3 separate regions of the Homo sapiens genome follow, and all the other regions are linked to region 1. The links come from fine-mapping of genetic effects on gene expression. A gene starts in region 1. Each other region holds a variant in brackets. All regions are shown on one strand. Distances are from middle to middle.

Evidence for each region.
Region 2: its variant is fine-mapped to the expression of PPM1A in sun-exposed skin (GTEx, PIP 0.97). The same link has a PIP of 0.9 or more in lung, spleen and tibial nerve.
Region 3: its variant is fine-mapped to the expression of PPM1A in whole blood (INTERVAL, PIP above 0.99).

The regions. Positions count from the first base shown.
Region 1 is chr14:60,244,516-60,252,701 of GRCh38, reverse strand. It overlaps PPM1A (protein phosphatase, Mg2+/Mn2+ dependent 1A), which reads right to left and starts at 3,481. Exons shown (of 6, transcript NM_021003.5): 1 at 3,025-3,481. LOC101927702 (a long non-coding RNA gene) reads left to right here and starts at 7,066. Exons shown (of 3, transcript NR_188027.1): 1 at 7,066-7,157. RefSeq lists silencers at 2,498-3,237, 3,438-3,537 and enhancers at 3,638-3,987, 4,048-4,097, 3,407-4,135, 4,678-4,927.
Region 2 is chr14:60,275,015-60,283,200 of GRCh38, reverse strand. PPM1A (protein phosphatase, Mg2+/Mn2+ dependent 1A) reads right to left here. Exons shown (of 6, transcript NM_021003.5): 2 at 1-517. The coding sequence starts at 497. Among named protein-coding and RNA genes, the nearest start is that of PPM1A, 30 kb to the right of the region's middle. RefSeq lists an enhancer at 1-920. The variant A/G (reference allele first, on the strand shown) is at 4,589.
Region 3 is chr14:60,212,066-60,220,251 of GRCh38, reverse strand. It overlaps the pseudogene RPL17P2. Among named protein-coding and RNA genes, the nearest start is that of PPM1A, 33 kb to the left of the region's middle. RefSeq lists enhancers at 1-103, 7,139-7,218. The variant G/T (reference allele first, on the strand shown) is at 3,540.

The DNA.
Region 1 (8,186 bases):
GCTAATAATCCCAGGTCAGTTAATTTATATATCTTGGCTAATAGCAAAATAACAAACACAACTTAATTTTAAAATTTGTTATTTGAGATGGAAGACAGGACATATTGTGACATAAAATTACTTAGAGGAAGACACAACTTTTACCCAGTTGCCTCACTATACCTTCTCCTCTTCTCCAAGGTTTATATATTTCACAGGGCCATGTGTTGTTTTATCTTCTTGCTTAACTCTTATAAAACCCTGCCGTGGCCAATTTTCTTACATGGCCATCTCTTTCTCCTGATTTGATTAAGGATGGAAAGTATTCAAGAGTATACTGACTCAGAGTCAGGTGCCCAGGCAAGAGTTAGATAATCATTTGAGAGGATCATCAAAATATCACCTTGTTATATTATTTCTACATGAGCATAGATTTACATCTTAAAAAATTAATCCAGCTCTCATGGGTGAGTATTTCAGAGATAACAAGTTCCTTGTGGACATATGCCACTTCTTGGTTAAAAATTACAAATATGCACGCACAGTTAAACCAAAATCAGCTGTACATTCTATTAGCTATTAGAGTAAACAAATGGCCTAGATGTAATCTGAACAAACTAAAAGACTATAGGTATTTAGTGACTGCTCAGCAATATTTACCACATGACAAAATGATGTTGCTATAGATTTCTTTCAAAAACAAATGAGGTATTAGAGAATTTTCAAAGGTTTAACAAGACCCAGCTTGAAGTGACAGAAAAAACCTTCATAATGTGTTTTTATAATGTCCTTCACATCAGACTACCAAGGGTCCTGTGCTTGTTCAAACCTGTAGTCTCAACCACCCTTTGTCTCCCATGAAATCTCCATCCTCCTTCCTCTCAAGAGTTTCCCTACACATCCCAATCCCAAAAGAAAAATCAATAGCTTACAAGAACACAAGAACAGCTTTTCTAAAGAACCATCACCAACTTAGAATTTGTTAAATAAAACAGAACCGAGAAAGAAATCCAGCCTTAGAACACTGAAACATCTAAGTGCCTGACACATAACAGGCATTTATTTGGCAACGGTATGTTGACTAGACACACAATATTGATAAAAAAAAATTTTTAAATGTAGTAACTGGACAGTACATGTGATAATATAATCTGCCCAACTGGCTTTACTGATTTGGAAGCTGAAACTCAAAAGGTTAAAGGACTTGTCCATGGACACAGATATTTTGGAGCACAGCCATGACTAAACAATCCTTGTCTCCTACTGCACTGTTCCCTTCAACAGGTCATATACCTCAGCCCCTCATGTAAAAAGATACAATATGTACACAAAATACATAAAAAGATACAAGCCAAATAAAAAGCAATTTGATGACTATTATTTCTCAAATATAATTGAGGTAGTTAACTTCAAACATTATCAGTCTTAATACACCTTTCCCATAATATAATTACTTCACCGATCTAAAAATGTTTTATGATATCAAATTAAAATGTCTTAGGCAACTGCCATGTGCAGGAAGTTCATTATAGTTTCAATAATGTGGTACTGCTGTAAACTTCCAGGTTAAAAGTAATCATCCTTACATGACTGAAAGTTTAATCAGATACATATAAGTTACACATAACAAGAACAAAACTATAACACTAGGAAATGTTACTTTGTGCTTCAAATTATTTATTGGTAAAGAAAGCATTAAGTCAGTAAAAGCAGCATCTAAGAATAGAGAATCTCCTTATTTTCAATTTTCTCATTTGTAAAATAAGGAGTTACAGAAATACAATCTTTGGAAAAGGCCCAATATGTAGCAAGATAAAAGTATAAAAGTAAAGTGTTTCAAAGAGAGTTGGGGACCAAGCTATGCTAAATTCCCAAGTGCTCTGGAACCCTAAGTCTCAGCAGAGTAGTGTTTCAACAAATCCCTCCACTTTTCGGAGCGCAACACATGTAAAGTGGTTGTGTTTAAAACCCCAACGTGCAAGTTTGAAAAGACTGTTTTACAAAACAATTGTTAAAATGTCTAATTTCTCTCAATAATGTCAAAATCATTTCCTTTGAGAAAATGATACCTATCTCTCATACTCTTCCAACCACTTCTTAAAACACATTCAGCTCATTATTCCAATGAGCAGGAAACTTGCGGGGAGGTGGGGCTAGCACACAGATCCCATGGCTTGGACAACTGAAGCATGACTTTTGTGGATTTGTACCATGTGGTGTTTCAGGAGAGAAGAAAAATACCTCAGGTGATGAAATTTTCAAAACGTATCTAAAACTGCAGTTGGTAGAAGGCTCTCCACAGCCAGCTGTCTTTCAAGAAAAGGCTCCAAGTTTATTTAAAATCTACAAGCAGAACAGAACCATACCTCAACCAAGCTCTAACATCAAGAAGTTTTACCCGATTTACGTAGTTAAAAGGATAAGAAATCGGAATTTACTTCAATGGATTTGTTCGATGCCTTAATAATGAATGAACTAGAGGCATCACTCACTGACTTGAGTTCTGAAGGAGTCTCTCAGCCCTGCCCCCTGTAAAACCTTAAGCAATTTCTACAGAATTAGGTTTTTCGAGGCTAAGCCCGGTTCAAAGGAAGTCTCCCCGCCTCCCTCCCAGGGGCTGAAGCCCAGGACAGCCGGGGCGGCGCGCCCGAGCGGGTGGGGGCGCGGGGACGCCCCCTCCCCGCTCGGGAAAAGTTCTGCAGGCCGCTCTCCGGCCAGGCCGGCCTGCGGCCGTCGCCTGCTTCGCCGCCACAAACACCCATCTCGGCCGCGGACGGCCAGAGGGTCGCGCCCCCTCCCCGCGCCACCGCAACTAACACCCCGCCCCCGCCTCCCCGCCACCGCCCTCGCCGAGCGTTAACCCCTCGCCGTCCGCCGCCCGGCTCGGGGGAGGAGGCCGGCCAGGGGGTGGAGTTGTCGCGTCTCCTCCCGGGAGCGCCCGGGCAGACGCCCGGCTTGTTTACAGGCCCCAGGCCTGCCCGCCGCCGCCGCCGCGCAGGCCCGCACCGCCCGCCAGCCCGCCGTCGGCCCGAGCGCCGCACTTACCCGGAGCAGCCGCAGGCGGGCAGGTCCCTGGTCGGCCGAGGCGGCGGCGGCGGCAGCCGGGGAGGGGGTCACCGCGGCGGCGACGGCGGCAGCCGGGGGAGGGGTCACCGCTGCAGCGGCGGGCCAGGTCAGGCTGGGGAAGGGGCGGAGGAGGGGAGGAGCCGGGCTGCGTCCGGGCCCCCGGCTGTCGGCGCCCTCGCGGCTCAGATCATCCGGGCGTTGGAGAGGGAGGCAGAGAGCGGGTCCCGGAGAAGGAGGAGGAAGAGCCGAGGACTCATCGCTTTCGCGCCTCAGCTGTCTAGAGTCCCCCCACCCCCCCCTCCCCAACCACCCGTTCCGGAGCAACAGCCGCCTGAGGACCCGAAGCTGCGGGCCGGACGAGCGCCGAGACCACTGCTCTCTAGCTCCCGCGCGCGCTCCCGTCCCTAGCGCCGCCACCGCCGCCGCCGCCGCCTCTAGCGCGGCCCCGCGCAGGCGCGCTCACGACCGCGTCGCCCCTCCCCCACCCCTCCGCTCGCCCCGCCCCGCTGGCTCCGCCGCCGCTACAGCTGCGGCGCGGCGCGCAGCTACAGAGACCCGGATGTCGTTGGGCAGGAACTGCGGTGAGGGCTGGCGGGCGGGGGAGGGGCCGCCACAGATGACGTCACTGCCTTACCCAGCTTCTTTCTCTGCCGCTGCTGCTGCCGCCGCCTTTGCCTTACGGCCTGGAGCACCAGGCCGAAGCCGAAGGGAGCGTCCGGATCCCGGATAGCAGCCAGGACCCGGGCCTTCACGTTCCGGCGCCAGGGACTGGACAGAATGTGCGGCTATTAGGTGCCCAGTAGATCGACAGCCCCTCCGTGCCGGCCCTTGGCCAAGTAGGGACTCGGAAGCTACCCCTACGGCGTCCGCGCCCGGAGCCCTGGCTCTTCTACCTGCCTGCAGATACAAACCCCACTCCCTGCGAAGATGGTGTACACGCAGCCCCGAGCACAGACCCGAAGCTGTCCACCCTTCTTGGGCGCCGTCGCGGTCTGGCCGCTGCCCTTCGAACCCATGGTGGGTCCCAGGCAGCTGCCAGACCCCCCTACCCCAGAGTCCCACTCCTCCAGAGCCTTCCTCTCCCAGTGACCCCAGGAAGCCCAAGCAGGTGCCACGGCCACACACCTCGCGACCCAAAGGGCAGAGACACAAGCACGCTACCACCGCCCACCAATGTGCGAGTGCAACTGATTCACGCACGGGGCACATGCTCTGAGTTTCTGGCAGGTTTTCCCTCTATAGTTCAGGGGATTCCACATTGTATTTATTTGCACATGTTAGATAATCACGTGGTTCTGTCCCAGGGGACCTCCAACGACCTCCAATGAGGTAGGTTAAGGGAACAGGATTTTTCAAAATCAGGAGAATAATCAGAAACATAACAGCTGCTTCTATTAAGAGGTAGAGATGAGCTAAAGTTAATAGAAACTGCACGTGCCAGCGGCCAAAATCCAGTTTAGCTAGCTGGAAAACCCGACCCACGCTGCTTGCAGACGCCGGGGATAGAATGACAAACCCTAGGCAGCCAATGAATCGCAGCCTAGGAGCAGTACATCACCAGCACGGGTTCCCATTGGCTGGGGTGCCCTTCCCTCTCTTGTCAGCGGCTTAACCAGTTCACGAATTTGACCTACACCACATTCGCAGGAAAAGAAGTTAGAAGAAAAGTCCGTATTTTTAAAAGATGTTCTGATGCACACACAAACCAAAGACTTCATTGTAGAAGGCAGGTTCTTTTACTGGCCAAATTGAGTTCTGGCCAGTAAAAAAGGTAAATTTATGTTGAAGGCCTCTCTATTTTACTTGAGGAGCTCACTATAGCAATTTGCACCCTACTACTTTCTATCTCCTAAACCATTTTGTTGCCCCAACTCTTAGATCAAAAGCAACCTATTTATTCTTTCTGGCATTCAGCAAATATTTAGCTGCTGCTTTTAAAGTTGTAAAAAGCCATCTCTAATTTTCTCAACATGACTTTGGGGAAGGTTCTGTTTCCTTCACTTTTTTTTTTTTTTTTTTTTTTTTTTTTGAGACAGAGTCTCGCTCTTTCATCCAGGCTAGTACAGTGGCACAATCTCGGCTCACTGCAAGCTCCGCCTCCCGGGTTCATGCCATTCTCCTGCCTCAGCCTCCCGAGTAGCTGGGACTACAGGCGCCTGCCACCACGCCTGGCTAATTTTTTTGTATTTTTAGTTCAGACAGGGTTTCACCGTGTTGGCCAGGATGGTCTCGGTTTCCTGACCTCGTGATCCACCCTCCTCGGCCTCCCAAAGTGCTGGGATTACAGTCGTGAGCCACTGTTCCCGGCCAGAATTCCTTAGAAGATGATCGTGGATCATTTCCACATATACAAAATAAAAATAAAATTCACTATGCATTTGGTCTCAGTATCATCTGAGGATACATTTCCTAATTCTCCACATATCTCCCCGACCCCCCAAAAAAAGAAATTAGATCAGAGATCTTTGAAACGCTACCTTCTTGGAATCCTTAATACTCCAGGCAAGTAACAGCATGAGTAGCATGCTGGTGGACTCATTAACATTCTGAACTACAAAAGCTCATATGGCAACCATTTAGAGTGCTCTTAAAAGACAAATTTTCTTATTTATAAGCAGAAGCTGGGTCACTAGTGACGGTAGTGGACCATAGAAAACTTGAAATGCCTGCCTATCTTTCTGCTTCCTTCCTTTAGGCTTCCACACCTTTCTTCTCTCTGTTCTGCACTTGGAGAATCTGGGTCAATTGTAGAAGAAGAGGGAGAGAAATAGAAAATATGAACAGAAAGAAATTTTTAAGGAGTCTACGCATTGTACAGACTGCCGATAAAGCAGCACCTTCCTACTATTTATTTCTGAATACAGCTTGCAGGGACATTTTGGTATGAACTAGGAAACTCATGGGTTATAAGATTAATATTTTAAAAAGATATCAATATTGTCTGATTAAATATGTTTAATATCATCATATCCCCTTTTATTAAACCTTATGCTAAGAAGGGGGGACAGATAGAAGGGGAAAATAACATTGAAAAAAGAGGATTGAAAGTTCTCTTCTGAACTGTAAGACTTTGCCGGGCCTCTACACATATTTGGGATGTTCACAGTAAGATTTTAGTGGGAATATATTGCCATGATGATGACATTTTAGTAATTTTTATAGGTATATTATAAAACTATCCTGCTCTGCTTTGGAAATCTGTTTATATTTCAATTAACAAAGAAAAAGATTATCTACAAGATTGGCTTTAAAGTCCTGAATTTAGTGTGTGTTGATAGCCTAGTAATTGGGAGGCTTGGGGTGAGGACAGGGGCTGTAGTGTGGAGTCTAAAGCTTAATCTGATCAGCAATACTCTCTTTCCCTTTCCACCACAATTGTGACTTAAAAAAAGGTTTACATTCCTGCTCCCAAATTACTCTCCAGGAGAGTCACCCTTGAGGCAGACTTGCCTGGGCCTCTCAAAATATATGCAGTAATGTAAATGACCCCCTCAGGAGGCTAGTATTTGAGAATACCCCTCACCATCCTTTTCCACTGAAGCCAGTCACTACTCAAGAGTTAGAAAGCCAACCAGAACATAGGTTCAACAATTCCTTCCTCCCTCACTACCTGTTTCATATTTTTTTCTCTCACACATCCTCTTCATTTGGTTTCCTCTTTTCTCATTTCTCCTTCTCTCTCCTCCCTTTTTCTTCTCTTCTCTTTTTGCCTTCTTTGCCCTTCTCTTCCCCATTCTTCTTTTCTCTCTTTTCATTAGCTTAGTACAAATTGTAGCTTCTGCTACCCATTTTCTCCCAGAACAGAACATGCGAGCAGACAGTGCCCCTAAATGAATTTCATTCAGGGAGAGGGTGTGCCCCCTACCCTGGCCCTCCTTCCTCCCTCCCCTACATCATAATACATTATGAGAAACTTAGCTGCTTAGAGGACTGTTACAGAATCAAAAGGATTAGAGAATCCTGTCCTGTGTGACATCACTGGGCAGCCCCATTAGGGAGGGGCAGAGGGGAGCAGCCAGCAGTCTTATGCTACCACTGTGGCTCATCCTGCGACCTGAGAGAAACCTGGGCAACTGTGAGCACCAGAGGCCAAGTCCTGGACAGTCTTTAGGGTAGGCTTTCACCTCAAGATAGCCATATATGGCCACAGCCTTACAATACTAGAGTGGATCTTGTCAGATAAGTTCATCTGTTCATGAGATAGCTATTGTGCACCAAGCACTGTGTGGGACACTGGAGGTAGATAATGACATCAATGGGCAAGCCCTGCCCACAAAGAGCCAACATAATAATAAGAGGCATAGACAAATAAGTCAGCAGATAGAAAGGAAATTGCATACTGTTATCCATGCTGTGAAGAAAATAAATAAGGAAACAGATCCGGGAGACGACTTGAAACAGGTGTTCAGTGCAGACCTCTCTAAGAAGGCAGCATTTGATCTAAAGGATGAGAAGGAGTCAGCTTCATAATCAGGGGAGAACTTTCCAGGTAGAGGGGTCAGCATGGGCAAAGGGCCTGATGTGGAAAAGAGCTTGGCAGAAAAGAGTTTCTTACAGCCCAAAGACAAGTTCAGCAAACTCAAGGCAAATAGTTTATGGTCATTTAAGTTTCGAGAGTGTTTCAACGTGGACATTAGGGATATTTAATTTATAATCAGGAAACTACATTATGTGCACGGGTATAATCCATAGAAAATAACTTGGTGAGTTGGTCTGGTGCAAAAAGCAAAGCAACTTTTTTAAAAATTGAAATTAAAAATAGTCTGGGTGCAGTGGCTCACACCTGTAATCCCAGCACTTTGGAAGGCCAAAGCGAGTGGATCACTTGAGGCCAGGAGTTCAAGACCAGCCTGGCCAACATGGGGAAACCCCGTCTCTACTGAAAATACAAAATTAGCCACACCTGGTGGCACACGCCTGTAATCCCAGCTACTTGGGAAGCTGAGGCAGGAGAATCGCAGGCAGGAGAATCACTGGAACTCAGGAGGTGGAGGTTGCAGTGGGCCGAGATCATGCCCCTGCACCCTAGCCTGCATGACAGAAAAAAAAACACCTTTATTCAACTATTGAAATTGAGAAGTATTCCATAACTCCAGGAAAGACCCGTCAGACAATCCAGCAGCAGCTAGAAAAGAGTGAAT
Region 2 (8,186 bases), 30 kb before region 1:
GGTTTGTGATCTTGTGTGAAGAAATGAACTTTCCTGTTCCTACAAAGTAAACCTCTTGAGTCTCCACAGTTAATGAAATAAGTATGTTGGGGAGAAATTAAGACACCTACAGCTGTTGACCCACTTCTATCTGCACCATGTTTCTTCTCTGACATAACTCTCATGTGTTCATCAATCTCCAGAAAACCTGTTCTGATTCCATTCTTTACATTTTCCACAGAAGGTGCTCCTGCAGACCCTTTAAAATCCTGGTTATTGGTGATGTGATCTAACAAATGCTCACAGCAGTATTTGGCAACCTGAGAACCAGCATGCCCATCATACACAGCAAAGAATGACCACGATTCAAGTCCACTTGGCAAACCGATCACAGCCGTATGTGCATCCTCCATTTCAACACGCCAGCCTTGCATGCTGCTTAGCCCATATCGCAACCCATTACCCTGCCCCTGGGCATTATGCTTTTCCATCTTTGGCTTGTCTAAAAATGCTCCCATTATGTCTTGATCCTCTAGGTCTGCAAAGGAAGAGAAACAGGAAAGTCAATAACTGTCTTATAAACAAAATATGTACCAAACAATCTTTTTAATAAGTGAAAGAGATATGCGGGAATTCACAACTCGCGATAAGCAGACATTCATTGTGTTGCTGACTTGGAATCTGGAGATTAACAAGGAGGAACTGGGGGAAAGCCTGATGAAGCACAGATCACAACAGACAAAAAGGCAGAAAAAAACTAAAGCATTGGGATAAAGGGGAGAAGGCAGAAAGGAGACCTGGCAGTGGCCATCAACTTAAACCAACCAGGCTAAATGTTTAATGATACAATGAACATGTGTAAGCTCAGGACTAAGTTGTATGTATATCAATTAAGAAAAGCCAAACGAATTCATGACATACCCAAAAAATCTACTAACTCAAATATATCTTGGTTGAACATTCAGGAATTTTCAAGCTTGATTCCAAACTCCCTAGTTTTATTCCCACTGCATGAACTCTGAAAAACTAAAAAATAATCTACTCACAATGCTCCAAATTTGCATGCTCCTTCAAGCCTTTGCTCATGTCAGTTTCCTTAACTGGAAACTCTTGCCTCATCCTATTTATAGAAAAAAGTATACCTATCCTTTTAAGTCTACCTTACATTCTACCTTTTCCATGAGGTTTTTCAGTTTTTGATAAAGTCAGTTAAGTTATTAAATTACTGTAAATGTTGTAGCCTCAAATTTCAAGTTGCAAGCAATTATATATATACATAACGAAGTGTACTGTATACATATATAACAAAATTACTACTAGTAATCTATTAATCATATAGTAATAACATGTACCATTATTATTATACTCTATGACCATTAGGTATATAAAGAAGATCAAAGGGTCTAGTGACAGCCCTGCTGACAAGCCTGAAGGCTCAGCTAATCTAATCCTTTTCCAATACTCAAAAGTTAACACCCGCTGGTCTAGAATGGGCCCACACAAGGCAAAGAGACAGCTGGTTAGAATTTACCTTGGCCCTTACTTGAACAATAGCTTAGAAATGTAGACACCTGGGTTCAAGTAATCAAGTAAGTCACAACTGAACTAAAGGCAATCCAAAAGAAGGATAGCATGATGAACAGAGATTTAATGGAGGTGAAGAGGAGTTAGGTAGTAGGGAATAATGGTGGAGAAAAGTATCTAGGTAAATCACTACGCAGCTCTGAAACTAGGGTATTGATGATGCTAATGATACTCAGCTCAGAGAGGAAACTGGGAGAAAAAGGGCAAGAAGAAAATCCTCCTAGGAAGGAAAGAAAAACATTTGTTTTCCCCTTCATTTTCCTTATAGGTCCAAACTGATACATAGGCAGAAAAGACTGGCTGATTGGCGTGATAAAACCATCTGCCTACTCCTCTGCCTCCTAGTACAGTTCAACTAACGAAAGGTAAGTAATGAAAACTAGCTATCATCCATCCCTTATGGTGATATTTATCAGATTATTTTTCTGACATCAAGTTGATACACACTGCAAAGGTGAGTATTTTGATTGGATAAAGGATAACGTAATAATGACACCTTATTAGCAGGCAATGTTTAAGAAGTATTCTAAGTCCCTCTGGTAAGTGTTTTACAAGCATTACTTCATTTAATCTCTTCAACAACTCTCTAAGGTAGATAATAATATTATCTCCAATTTATAGATGAAGAACCTTAGCCAAGATTAAAGAACTTGGCCAAGATCACTCAACTAATAAGTTTAAAGGAATCAGGGCTCTGATTCAAGTCTGCGTGACTCTAAAGCATCATTAACCCCTAAGAAAATGGGTCTCTACCATGGCTGTGCAACAGAATTATCTGTGGACTTTTTGAAAAATAAATATTTCCAAATCAGAATTTCCAGGGTAGGGTTGGAACCTAGGTATCTATGATTTTTAAATTTTCATATGTGATTCTGAGGCACAGTAAGGTTGCAAACTGCTGGAAAAGATTAGATGGAATGCCTAAGGCAGAAGATGGGGGCACATTAAGGGCCAACAAGAAATAATCAACCAAAATTGCAGTAACCAAGACCACTATCCTAGGTTACAAGACCACTATCCTAGACTAGAAACAACAAGGTGAAGTTTTACAGAGGAAAGACTCCACTACCTTGAGAAAAGGAAAGAAAAAAAGAGACGTGAGTGAAACTCAAAAAATTAAACACATTTAAGAGACAAACCAACAGAAAAGAATAGTAATGACAAACTTCCTTCCTCTACGAATTCACCAATAGCATGAAGTACTAAAGAAAATAAGTTATGAAATTAGACCAATGTGGGTTTAAATTCTGGCTCTACTACTTAGTAATAGTGTGACTACTGAACCTTTCCGAATCTCTTTCTCCATCTGTTCCTGTATAAGCATATAAGAAGGCAGCCAGGTGTGGTGGCTCACGCCTGTAATCCCAGCACTTTAGGAGGCCGAGGTGGGTGGATCATGAGGTCAGGAGTTCTAGACCAGCCTGGCCAATATGGTGAAACCCCGTCTCTACTAAAAATACAAAAATTAGCCAGGCATGGTGGCGCATGCCCGTAATCCCGGCTACTTGGGAGGCTGAGGCAGAAGAATGGCTTGAACCTGGAGGCAGAGGTTGCACTGAGCCAAGCTGAGATCACATCACTGCACTCCAGCCTGGGCGATAGAGCGAGACTCCGTCTCAAAAAAAAAAGTATATAAGAAGGCACTAACCTTACAAGATTCTTATGACGATTAAATAAAATAATGTATACAGTGCACAAAGTATAGTGTCTAGCAAATTATAAATACTCAATATAATATAGATATTATTATATAATTTTTACACCATTTTTTCTGCCAGAGGAGGCAGTCAATCACAATAATATTTCCTCCTTGCCGCCAGCTCTGATTACCATTAAATTAAACTTCTATGTGATATATTTTAAAAGACACTTTAAACACTTCATTAGTAAATAGGGGAAGGCACATTTAAAACAAATGCCATTTCTCATCCATCTGGCAATATCAAGAGTTGGTCAGAATGTGGAGAAACAGGAACTCCCCTAGAGTGCCGATAGGAGTTTAAATTGGTTCAACCACTCTGAATTGCAACTGGCAACAGCTAGTTGAAGAAGTTGAAGATACACTTAAGCAACTACTCAGCAATTCCACTTCTAATTATAGATCTCAAAACAACGTTTTAAAAATAATGAACACGGGTGATAAATCAGTTTAATCAGTATGGGTTACACACAACCCAATCAGCTGGGTTGTGTGTAAACTGCATTTGAAAAAGATAAAATAGGCCGAGCGCAGTGGCTCACGCCTGTAATCTCAGCACTTTGGGAGGCTGAGGTGGGTGGATTAATTGAGGTCAGGAGTTCGAGACCAGACTGGCCAACATGGTGAAACCCTGTCTCTATTAATACAAAAAATTAGCCGGGTGTGGTGGCTGGCGCCTGTAATCCCAACTACTCAGGAGGCTGAGGCAGGAGAATTGTTTGAACCTGGGAGGTGGAGGTTGCAGTGAGCCAAGATCATGCCATTGCACTCTAGCCCGGGCAGCAAGAGCGAAACAACGTCTCAAGAAAACAAAACAGAACAAAATAGAGTGCATCCCAGGTGATAAAAGTAAGTAAATACTGTTTCTTGAAGTTTTTGTCCCAAGTGTATATTTGTATTTACTAAGCTGAGGTGCACATAATTCTTACTGTGGTCACAACAAAAAGTCTGAAACATGCTGTCTTGAAGAAACTCTCCCATCCATCCATCCAAGGTGACATATTCAATGATCTTTTTGGAGAACCATAATAGTCAATGTTGGAAATAACCTAACTGCTCATTAGAAGGTAGGAAGGATAAATAACAGAATACAATTTATCAAAAACAGATCTAATTACATAAACAGATATTCCTAAAAAACAAAAGAAGACAATATGCTGAACAAGGCTGCAAAACAATTCTATACACATATTTGCTAAAAGTATAAAAACAAGGACAGGCAGAATACAGACAAACTTTAGAATAGTGGCTGTAAACTCCATGAGAGCAGGGACTTTTTGTTTTATTCACTGGTGTCTTCCCAGCACTTGGAGCACAGCCTAACAC[A/G]CAGAAGAAGTTCAATCTTTGTCGAATGACTAGTTTCTCTCTGGGAAGACAAAGAAAAGAGGATGGCTTCAGGAAAGGGTCTAACAATGGGATACAACTGTATCTGCAGGTGGTGTTTCCTGGACTTTGAAGCAGAAAGAGGGAATTTAGGAACATAATCTCTGCTTTAGTTTTTCTAAATTATCTCGGCTTTTAGCTTTCCTTTGGTTCATCTAAGGTAAGCTGAATTCCTTCAAAAGTTACCTGTACTAAGAAGTCAAAAAAAAAAAAAAAGAAACTGGGAGCCAAAGAAAAGCAAACCGCAAACCATGAAATCTTTTAAAAGCACATAGGATTATCTTAAAACTTAACTAAGATTCACTTCTATCTTAGACAGATTAGGAGCCTGGCTTTCCTCCTTATTCTTTCCTATAGCCTACATTTTTATCTCTGAACAACTACATGAGATAACAGGTAGTCACAGGCTTAATAATAACATCTAACATTTATGGAGAGATTACTACTAGCCAAGCACTGTTCTAAAGTTTTGTATATGTATTAACTTCTTTAATCTTCACACCAATCCTAAAAGATAGGTACCCTGTTTTACTCATGAAGAAACTAAGCCACGGTGAGGTTAAGTCATCTGCTGAAGGTCAATAGCAAATTGCCTTATCTCTGTGTCTCAATTCCCTTAACTAGGATGAGGGAGCAAGGTTGAGGAGGGAGGTATTATGCTTAAGACACTTCACACCTACTAATAAAGCATTCCTCAACTTCCTCATCTGTACAGTGGGCATATTAATACTTTCCTCTGAATGCTGCTGCAAGGTTTAAATGAGGCAATGCCTTGCAAGGCACCCATACAGAGCCTGGCAAAAATGAGGCAGTCAGCAAACAGGCACTGTTTAATTACTAACTCCTACATAAACAGCCACGTCTAGATTCCAGCCTCAACTAGCAGGGACCTCACTCTCACTTTTATAAAGAAGTACAGTAGTTATTTTCCAGATACACACATGAAACTACCAAATAATTCTTTGAAGATAGAATATACTTTCTAAAAACAAACCCCAGACTTTAAAAAATATATACAGTATATTATTATAGTATATAAATTAGTATATAAAAATGTAACAAACCAAGTAACCATCTAACAAAATTTTAGGTTCAGCTCCACAGCAACTGTAAAAATATAGTCAAGGGTAAATTAATAGTTTTGTGGCTGGACTTTTACATACTGAAAACAGGCAATATAAAAATCTTACCTCCTTGGGTTCTGAGCAATTTGTAGAGTCCTGGTGAAGCAGCCAACTATAAGCTACATGGATACAAGAGCTGATTATATAAATATAATACCAAAAAGTACTTACTTGCAAATACTATGTTTACACAGTCATCTTCCATAAGTGGACTAATAAAGAGTATTTTATTTAGTCCAATAATTAAATTGGCGTATATCCATAAATAGTAAATCCCAAGGGGATTCAATTTGTCCATGAAAGTTTTTAGTTAGTTTCTGAGAGAAATTTTAGTTCTCACCTAGTCATAAATCTGTTCTTGAGTACAAGCTGAGTCTCATCACAGCACTAGTATTATCAGTTGATCTGAACTTTTCAAAACAAAGTACTATGACAAAAAACAAGACTGAATTAATATTTGATATAATCAGAAAATTTCATGAACATTTTGTACCTTTTAAAAACCAAACTAATCCCTAAACTGAAAAATTCTAAGGCTGGGCCAAGAAGTCATTAATTAATGTTCAGTCTTGCCTTTTATTAAGCAAAGGTGAACTCATAGTAGAGTCTTGAACCCGGTCATTTGGTTTAATCCACTCAGAATTATAGTGAATAATTTTTAAAATGCTCTATATATTTTATTGTTAAAATCCCTATGCAACATGTTAGCCCCAAAGTAACAAGAGTTATTCAACTGACAATTTGAGCAGAAACCTTAAAAAGTTGAGTAATAAAACCCTACATATTTTTCTATTTACGTAGGGACACTTAACCTAATAGGGAACGCCCCCCAGGCTTTATAAACAAAGGACATAGATACATACAATGTGGAGAAAATTATATTCTCTTAGCAAATACCAGAGTTATTCTTACTCATATAACAAAAGAACATTGCTAAACAGGCATTCCAAGAAGGGTGGATACTGGTAACTAGAGGACCTTTGATGACCACTGAGATAATAGGTTTGGTTTTAAACATTTGGGAGAAAAATCTAGAGTAGACTTGCATTAGAGATAAGAAATCTAAAGGCTGAAGGGAAATCCAAAGAGAAAAAAATATATAGTGAGAGACTACAAGCTCCTCGGGGAAGGTGGGGAAAAGGAACGTTAACAAACAGCACAGGTCACAGTGGATAATATGGCAATATTCAAATTACTTGCAGTGGGATGTAGAGCGTAAACTCTCTACTGCTACCAAATCTTTATATTCTACATTGCTCACTAATGCTTACATATGTACGGGCTTTGTCCTCAAAGATAAGGACAAATGGTCAGCTGACTTCTGGAATGCATATTTATGGAACAATAGAGTATTAAGCAATATACTGCATACCTGGGGTTCAAAGAAGAAATGCTAACCCTTGCAGCTACATCTCTATAAAGGATAATTTAGGCTACACAAACTACACTTAATTTCCCAAGCTATGTGAAATAGTAATAAATTCTAGTTTGTAATCCAAGGCAGCCATCTCAAAGTTATCTATGGTAATGAGAAATAAGCACATTAACAAAACTGTAGCAAATCTGTAAAAAAAAAAAAAAAAAAAAGGCTAATCTTTGGAAATTTTTCTCCCATTTGGAGCTGAAATTTCCCACTGATTGTTGCTTTAAAAATGATTAGAGCCACACATGGTGGCACATGCCTGTAATCCCAGTGCTTTGGGAGACTGAGGTGGGAGGACCACTTGAGGGCAGTTCAAGACCAGCCTGGGCAAAATAGCGTGACTCTGTAAAAATGATTAGCGGGGCATAGTGGTGCATGCCTGTAGTCCTAGCTACTCAGGAGGCTGAGGAAGGAGGACTGCTTGGGCCCACGAATTTGAAGCTGCAGTGACCTATAATGGTGCCACTGCACTCCAGCCTGGGCAATAGAGTAAGACTCTGTCTCTAAAAAAATAAAAATAATAAAATATTACTCATTTATAGTTACAAATTTGATTTTGATAACTTGCATAATGAATCAGAGCCAAAATGCAGAAATGATTTGTGTAAACCTATTTTACAAATGAGAAGGTGCAGAGAAACAGAATAACTTGCCCAAGGTTACAAAGCTGGTTCATCAGTAAGGCTAAGAATAAGACTTAGGTTTCTGGACTTACACTCCAATTCTCCTACATGTGCTATCCTGTATCCTTGCAAATGAGGTAATGAAAATCTAAATGTGTAGGCTTTTTAAAGACAACATACAAGATAAGGAAGACTGTCACAGAACAAAACTAAAACTTCCCTCAGTGCCATATCTTCTTCTGCCTACAAGTCTATATATTTTCTTTTCTAAATCTCTAAAACTGCCAAAGATAAATGACCTTAAAAAAAAAAAAAAGGAAGAAGAGAAAAGAAAGAAATCTAAAATTTTTCTTTTTTGTCTGGGACTGAAA
Region 3 (8,186 bases), 32 kb after region 1:
GGGCTTCCCAGGGTTGTTTTGTCATAGTGTGGCAAAAGGTGCTGGGGTGGTAACTTCTAAACAGGCCAGCCCTATCTTGGATCTAGGTTTAGCAACATAAAGTACAAGTTCCACGATATTTAATATTTCATCAAGTGTTTGATGAGTACCTTCCAAATACTCAGAATGCTGTGTAAGTTTGCATCAGGACTGATCCCTTCCCTCAAGGAGCTCTCAATCTCCTAGGGAAATAACATAATTTTATATAAAATGGCAATGTGTAAATACATTCCAAGATGAAGAGCATGGAAAAAGAATGTAGTAATAGAAGTCAGTATATTTTCCTTATAATTGTATTGCTTACATTTTATGCTTTAAATAACTTATTGTACAAAACACATTATAGGACAAAACACATTATAGGGCAAAACACTTTCTTGACCTGTAAGCTGAATGTCTTATGTACCCACAAACTAAATAGTGGTTAAAGTTTCTTTCTGCTTTAAAATGTGCCCATTTTAGTACAAGTACTTGCAGATACCAATTAAGGTGTGTGTGGAGGTACACGAGGGAAGTCTCCTCACTCACTCTTCACTGTTTGTCACTGTTTGACAGCCCCTGAGTCTGAAGGTGTACAATCTCTCTAATCCTTCAGCCAACCTTTCTGTGGCCATTCTCCCTGTTTCATCTCAAGTCACTTAGGAGATACCTGGGGGTGACAATTGGAGGAATAAATTAAAGTGTGGTCATTTGGAGAAGTCAGACAAATCCAGAAGGTCTAAGCTATTTGGAGATTTTCCTAATAAACTTTCCTAAGTGGGACATTTCCCACTTTAGCCAAACTTCTATTTAAGCGTACAGTTTGAATCAGGTTATGTTTCTGTCCCTGCTATCCACAGAACTTGGTCACATTAGTGTCAGCCCTGGAGAGTTCTGCCCCAACTCCAGGTCATTCTTGGTCCATAGTCCGGTGGTGGGCAGTCTTGGCTTGTCACAGTTAAAACTGGGGCTTTTAACTCTACAAGTTCAGGCCCTGTCCCTCAGAAATTCTAATTTAGGGATCTGGAGTTTGTCCTATGAAATCCACATGTGTCAAGGTTGAAATGAACAGATACCCATTTAATGTAAAGGGAAAACCTTAAACAATTATAACTGAGTAACAATGTAATCACCTTTCTGTGAACTCATTGTTACTGGAAGTTTTCTAGCAGAGGCTACACTTTTGAACTATCAGTCCTCTTTCTCCATCATAAAACATAACTATACCCTAAGCACCCTTTCTACATTATCTCATTAATCTGCACAAATTTCCTGTAGGGAGAATGTCATTACTATTCTCATTTTACAAATGAGAAAAGTGAGATGCAGAGTGTAAATGATTTGCCTAAGATCAAACAGCCAAGAAAAGATGAAGAAAGGACTACCGCGAAGGTAATTCCTGATCTACTACCCTATGTGTCCTCAATCCTGTAGATATGCCCTGGCCCAAGGAGATGGCAGAGAGCCTAGGCCACTTGTCAGTTTATTCGAGGACCCTTAGATTTGATTGAAGATCAGGGTGGGAAGGGGTGGGGTGGCCAGAGCCAGAGATTACACTGCTGCAGGTTTTCCCGCTAGTCCCACCTGCTTATGTACCTTGAGCCCTTGAGTTCTGCTGGGCAATCTATATAGAAATAACTGCTATTATTTACTGAGAGTTTACCATGTGCCCAGCACTGTGTGAACTGCTTTACTTATAAGAGCTTATTTAGTTGCTGCAACAACCCCATGAAGAGGGAATTAGATCTTCATCTTGTAGATGTGGAAACTGAGGCTGAAAGTCTTGCCAGGGTCATACAGCAAGGCCATGAATCAAATTCAGGTATATGTGTGCTCAAAAGCCTGTGCCCTACAAAGGGATTGTTTTGGAGACAGTGATGTTCTGAAGGGCAGGGAGGACCTACCGAGAGTAGTTGTCCCCCTCGGAGTCTCTCAGTGTAGGCCAGTGAATATCCACTTGGTTAGACTGAGAGTGTACCCTGGGAGCTATTTCATCCCCCCAGATGACAGTTCACTGGGACATAGCGACCCCGAACCGTTATCAGATGTAAGAGACTCCAGGATTTCTGAAATGCAGACACAAGTTATAGTAAGTTTTGTGTGGAGATGGAAAGAATTGTGTGTGTGTGTGTGTGTGTGTGTGTGTGTGTGTGTGTTTTGTGTGTGTGTGTGCATGCCTGTATGTATGACATGTACATACACACATGTAAGTGTATGGTATAGAGAATGTCAGGAGAATGGGGTTCTAGCCCTGTCTGCCACTCTATATTCAAGAAAGTCCAGAGAGGAAGTAGGGCAGATCCAGGGCTTTTTGAGGACACGCTTTCACTCTGCACATGAAACAGGATGCCAGACTCTAAGAGCTTCTAAAAGGCCTTGAAACCAACTCCCCGGCTTCCAACCTCCAGCTCAAGTACTCTTTGGCAGCTGTGAATTTCTCAGGCCTCACTGGTATCACCAACCCATCTCCCTGGGGGTCCCGGAACTTCTCAGGAGTCTGGGGTCTGGGGTGCTGGCACAGAGGCCCATGGGGGCCACAGGCTTGTGCTCCTGGGATATCTAAAATCCACTACCACATCTCAGGACTCAGAGCCCCAGGAAACCAGGACTTCCAAAGGCTGCTTTGGCTTTCCCTGCTGTGCTTAGGACAACAGGCTAGTTCAAAGCATGAAAAGGAAAATTGTGTCCACACTTGGTACTCAGAATGGCTACCTTTTGGTCCACTGCTATACTTTCTGACACGAAACATTACACTTGCATTTGTCATTTCCCTGCTACACCCTCCACCAGAGTCTGGAATCTCACAGAAGCGCCAGCTTTGGGGAGGGAGTCAGTAATGTCAGACAGCAGTCTTCAGCAGCTTGTTAGTTTGGCACATGGCTTTGGACTCAGACGGACTTGGATTTAAATTCTGACTCTGCCCCCAAGGAGCTTGATGGTCTTGGCAGGCCACGTGCTTCTCTGACCTTTGTTTCCTCCTCTGAAAAACAAAGGCACTAATGCCTGTCTGTGTGGTGACCTGACACAGCCCCTACCTGGGACCTGGCAAGTGCCCAACACACAGAGGTGCTGCGATTTCAGCTGCACTGAGAAAGGACCCTTGGGCCAAAAGAAATCTTTCCCCGACAATTTTCTGACATGATCTGGCTTTTATGCACCTCTTTAGCCTCAAACAGGAATGGTACCCGCACTCTGCTTCCTTGAATACCACCATGATCTTTGTCACTGCTGTTCCCTCTTCCTAGAACGCTGTTCCCTTCAGGCCTCCACTCTGTTCATCCAGTTAGCACCAGCTTCCAGGTCTCCTCAGTTACCTTGAAGAGAACCTTTAAGGGCTCCCCTGGCTCAGCTTTGTTCTCACTTGTGCGATTATTTTAAAGATGTTTGTTAATTAATTAAACAACAAACCATGGATGAGACAAACATTAAACAATGTAAACTCCATGAAGGTGCCTGTTTTACTCACCAGTGCCTGGTACATACTAGGTCTCAGTAGCTATTTGTTGAAAGAAGGAATGGAT[G/T]AGAAATGCAATCATTTAACTGAAAGGAGTACAGTTGTCACAATGCTAGTGCTCCCCAAAATATTAGTAGTTATTCTGAAGTCAAAAAGAGGTACATGGTCAAATTGGACACTTCGGGCAAAACAAAATTAGACAGGTTTCTTCTCAGTAGAACTTCTCAACATCTTAATATGCTAATGTGCATTATGAATTTCTAGTGGGAGGAGGCTTAACACCAAACAAGGAACCTCCTTTGTCATTTACACCTCACTGTGAATGAGTTTAATCAAAGCTTAGCCAGAGAGTAAGTGACGGGGAAGTAGAAGTTCCAGGCTCTGAAGGCGAGGAACTCTGCCTGTCTTCAGCCTGCCCCCAAATGCAGAGCCCCTGGGCTTCTGGGAGCAAAATCCACTTGAATACATGAGCAGCTGGCCTGTTCATAACTCACCCCTACAACTGAATCTTGGCACAGCAATCTAAACCTGGACCTAAATCTAAATGGCAATCTAAAGTTGTCATTACTGCTATTTTTACCAAAAGACCTCTTTCTTACATCAGCCATGGAGGGATTTCATCTAAAAAAAAATTTGCTGTTTATCTTCTTCAATAAAAAGTGACTTTGACAATGTGGTGTAAGGTTGATGTGTCCCAAGAAACAGACCTGTTCCCTGTCTGGATTTGTTTTCTTTTATTGCTTTTTAAATCCAGCATTCCTCTTTTCATTTCTGGCTTAAGCTACAGGGCAGTACTGGTTTTGCTCAAGAGGAGTCTCTATTTGGAGTTGATTGAAAAAACAAAACTGGCTAAAAGAAGGATCAGGACAGTCCTAAATATAATTAAAATAGAAATAAAAGGGCGACACATAAACCAGATGGGTATCCAAACCTGGATGGTTTCTGTGTTCCAAACATTGACTCTGAGTAGCTGTATTTGAATGCAAGAATGGAGCAATGCCTGATGCCTCACAATGGATGGAGAATGTGAATGAGGTTGGATAGAACAGAGCTGAAATGTTGACTGCTGTGATTCATGGTGCTTCCAAGATGGCGCCATCATAACAGAGTTAGTATTTACAGGCAGGGCAAACTGCAAAGCAGGGAGAGTTTATCTCTAGTTCTTCTTTCTTCAGTTTCAGCAGGGAAACTCAGATTGCCCTCTCACTAAAGGTGCCGTTGTTGCCTCTTGGTTTTCTTTGGCCTAGCATGTCAATTATTTTCATCTCACTCATTCAAGATCCTGATCCTGGTTTTAAAACTAATCCAATAAACCAATTCACTAGCTAATGGATGATAGTTTAAAAATGTGACTTCCTCCTTTTACCTAAGATATTTGTATTTTAACAAGGGTCATCTGGTTGATATCAAACAAGTCACTCTAATGGTGAAAAGTCAGGCAGTAGGGAGATGCTTCTGCGTAGATTGCCCTGCAGTTCCTTTCAAGATCTACACAGAGGCAGCTGTCTGCTCTGGCTGGGTAGGATTGGCTCTGTTACAGATCTTTGCTGTGCAGTAAAGGTAGGTTAAAGGGCAGCACCGAATGGCACAAGAATAGAAAACAGCACATGGAGATGGTATTTTGTCCATGGATTGGGGATTACTATCCTAAGCAGCCAGGATTTTTCCAGTAGAGTTTTATACAATAAAATAAATGTGTTCTGCACTTTTAGTGTTTAAATAAACATGGAGGATTTATTTCTAGCTGTAATGTAAATTGGTGATGTAGAAAGTTATGAAAAGAGAATGCATCCAAAAACTTAAGACCTCCTGGTTTCTGTCACTGCTCTGTGTGCTTAAACAACACTGATTTCTACATAAATAACTCACCCCTTAGAAAATATATGTAAGATAATTTACTCTAAGAATTTTCCCCTTAAAAAAGTACGTTTACTGTGAGCAAAAGTTTATGGAAACTAGCATGAGTAAACCAAGAGCAAAGTGCAATATATGTATGTATAAATATATAATGTATTCTCTGAATCTTCTAATTTTCTATATTTGTGTTTGAAATTATAATCAAAGGCCATGACCCAAGATATCCATTCCTAAAATATACCCTGAATTAGTGGCTTTCCAACCTTCTTCTACTTTGACCTGCAGTAATAAATCCATTTTACCTTGTGATCCAATACACACACACCCTGAAATAAAAATGTCATAAAACAAAGCTAATGCTTGTTACATGCAATAGCTCTAGTATTTTTATTCTATCTTCTTCAATTTCTTTTTTCCTTCTTGTTTTCTTAAAAATTGATATTACTAGTTCACCAGCAAATTGGGACCCACAGTTTGAAAAGCACTGCCCCAGAAACTCACACATACATAAAATGTTTATAGCAGCACTGTTCGAAATAGCAAATAAGTAGGGAAATGTGTATGGCTAATGATAAACATTGTGTATCAAAATGGAGCATGACTTGGATTGGGAGGTTAGAAAAGGACTTTTGAGGAAATGACACTTACATTTAGACTAGAGGGTAAAGCCTGGTAAAGAGTATTGGACACTGAGCAGGCTTTGAGTAAGCAAAACCTTGGCACCCTCCAGGAACTGAAGAAGGCTAACGTGGTAGGGCCATAGCCAAGGAGAGAGACATGTCATAAGATTGGGATAGTAGGGATAAATTGTGCAATGTTTTGTAGGCAATATTGAGGATGGAGGATTTTTATTTATCTAAGTGCAGTGGGTAGTCATCGAGGGGTTTTAAGCTGGGAAATAACACAATCAAATTTATCTTTTTAACCATTGCCCTGGTTCCTATGTGAAGAATGGATTAGAAAAAGGATCAAGGGGCCAGGCACAGTGGCTTCTGCCTGTAATCCCAGCACTTTGGGAGGCTGAGGTGGGAGGATCACTTGAGCCTGGGTGTTCAAGACCAGCCTGGTCAACATAGTGAGACCCTGTCTCTCCAAAAAAATTAAAATATTACCTGGGTGTGGTGGCATGCACCTGTAGTCCCCTCTACTCCAGACGCTGAGGCAGGAGGATTGTTTGAGTCCAGAAGTTTGAGGTTACGGTGATTTATGATCATGCCACTATATTCCAACCTGGTTGACAGAGCAAGACCCTGTCAAAAAAAAAAGAAAGAAAGAAAGAAAAAGCATGGAGGAAAACCAGTTAAGAAGCTATTGTAAAAGTCTGATGGCTTGGATTGTGGTGACAGTGGAAACAAAGATAAGTGGATTACAGGGAATATTTTAGAGAGATACATCTATGAGACTCAGTGATGGCTTAGTTAGGATTGAAGGTAGGGTTGAAGGAGGGAGGTGAGGTTGAAGGTAAGGGCTATATCAAGGATGACACACCCAGTATTCATGCTAGAGCATCTAAGTAGGTGAAGATCTTATTTATTGATGTAGAAGACCAAAGGAAAGCACATTTGAGCAGGCAAGGATTAAGAATTTGGTTTTGTAAATCTTAAATCTGAGATGTCTCTGAGACCTCCAAATAGAGAATTCAAGTTATCAATTAGCTACGCAAACCTGGAGCTCTGCAAGGAGACTAGATTAGAGATATATATTTGAATCAGCAGCCTATGTAAATGTGATCATCCTGGAATGACAAAACAGAGCACGAGGAACAGATTGAGCTCAGGACAGAGCCCTGAGGAGCCCCAACATTCAGAAGTGGCTTGAGAAGAAGGGATCAGGACAGGAGTCTGAGGCCACAGGGGTGGTAGGAAACTTAGAGTGCATGGTCTCATAGGGGCCAAAGGAAGAGAGTGATTTGATAATTGGTTAGTAGTTGACAGTGTCAAGTACTGCTAAGAAGTTAAAGATGATGAGACTGCTCTTCCCCTAAGTGACCTGAGGTGATCTGTGAAAATAGTTCACTATTCACTTGACCCAGAAAATCCCACAAAATTATGCAAATCAAGAGGTTCAAATCTTTGTGTTCACTTTCAGAACACTCATGAAACTGCCCAGGCCATCAGGGGTATGCATATACAAAAAGCCCCAAGTATCTGAAAGACGTCACTTTACAGAAGCAGGGTGTACCATTCCGACATTTCAGGGGGGGAGTTGTTGGGTGTGCCCAGGCCAAGCAGTGGGGCTGATGGGGTTGGTGGCCCAAAAAGCTTGCTGAATTTTTGCTGCACATGCTTAAAAGTGCAGAGGGTAATGCTGAGCTTAAGGGTTTAGATGTAGATTCTCTGGTCATTGAGCATATCTAGGTGAACAAAGCACATAAAATGCATTACTGGACTTACAGAACACGTAGTCAGATTAACTCATACATGAGCTCTCCCTGCCACATCGAGATGATCCTTACTGAAACAAATTGTTCAAGAAGAAAAATAATGAGTGAAGTGTCCAATTATTAAAGAAGAACCTGTTTATTTTTTAAATGAATAACAGTAGGTATTAAATCACTACAGTATTTGTGTTCTACTAGCTACATTTGAAAGAGTGGTACAAGAGTTTTATTATTTAATAGTAATTTCAATTTTATCAGTAATTACCTTTTTATTAACCATTCAAACTTCTGATAAAAGTGGTTAGATGTTGATTTAAAAATATGTGAGGAGTTGCCTAACTTTCAAAATTCTTCTCTGCTATCAATAGTTAGAAAAATCCCTTGATTTAGGCCAAATGCAGTGGCTCATGTCTGTCATCCCAACACTTTGGGAGGCTCAGGCGGGCAGATCACCTGCACTCGGGAGTTCGAGACCAG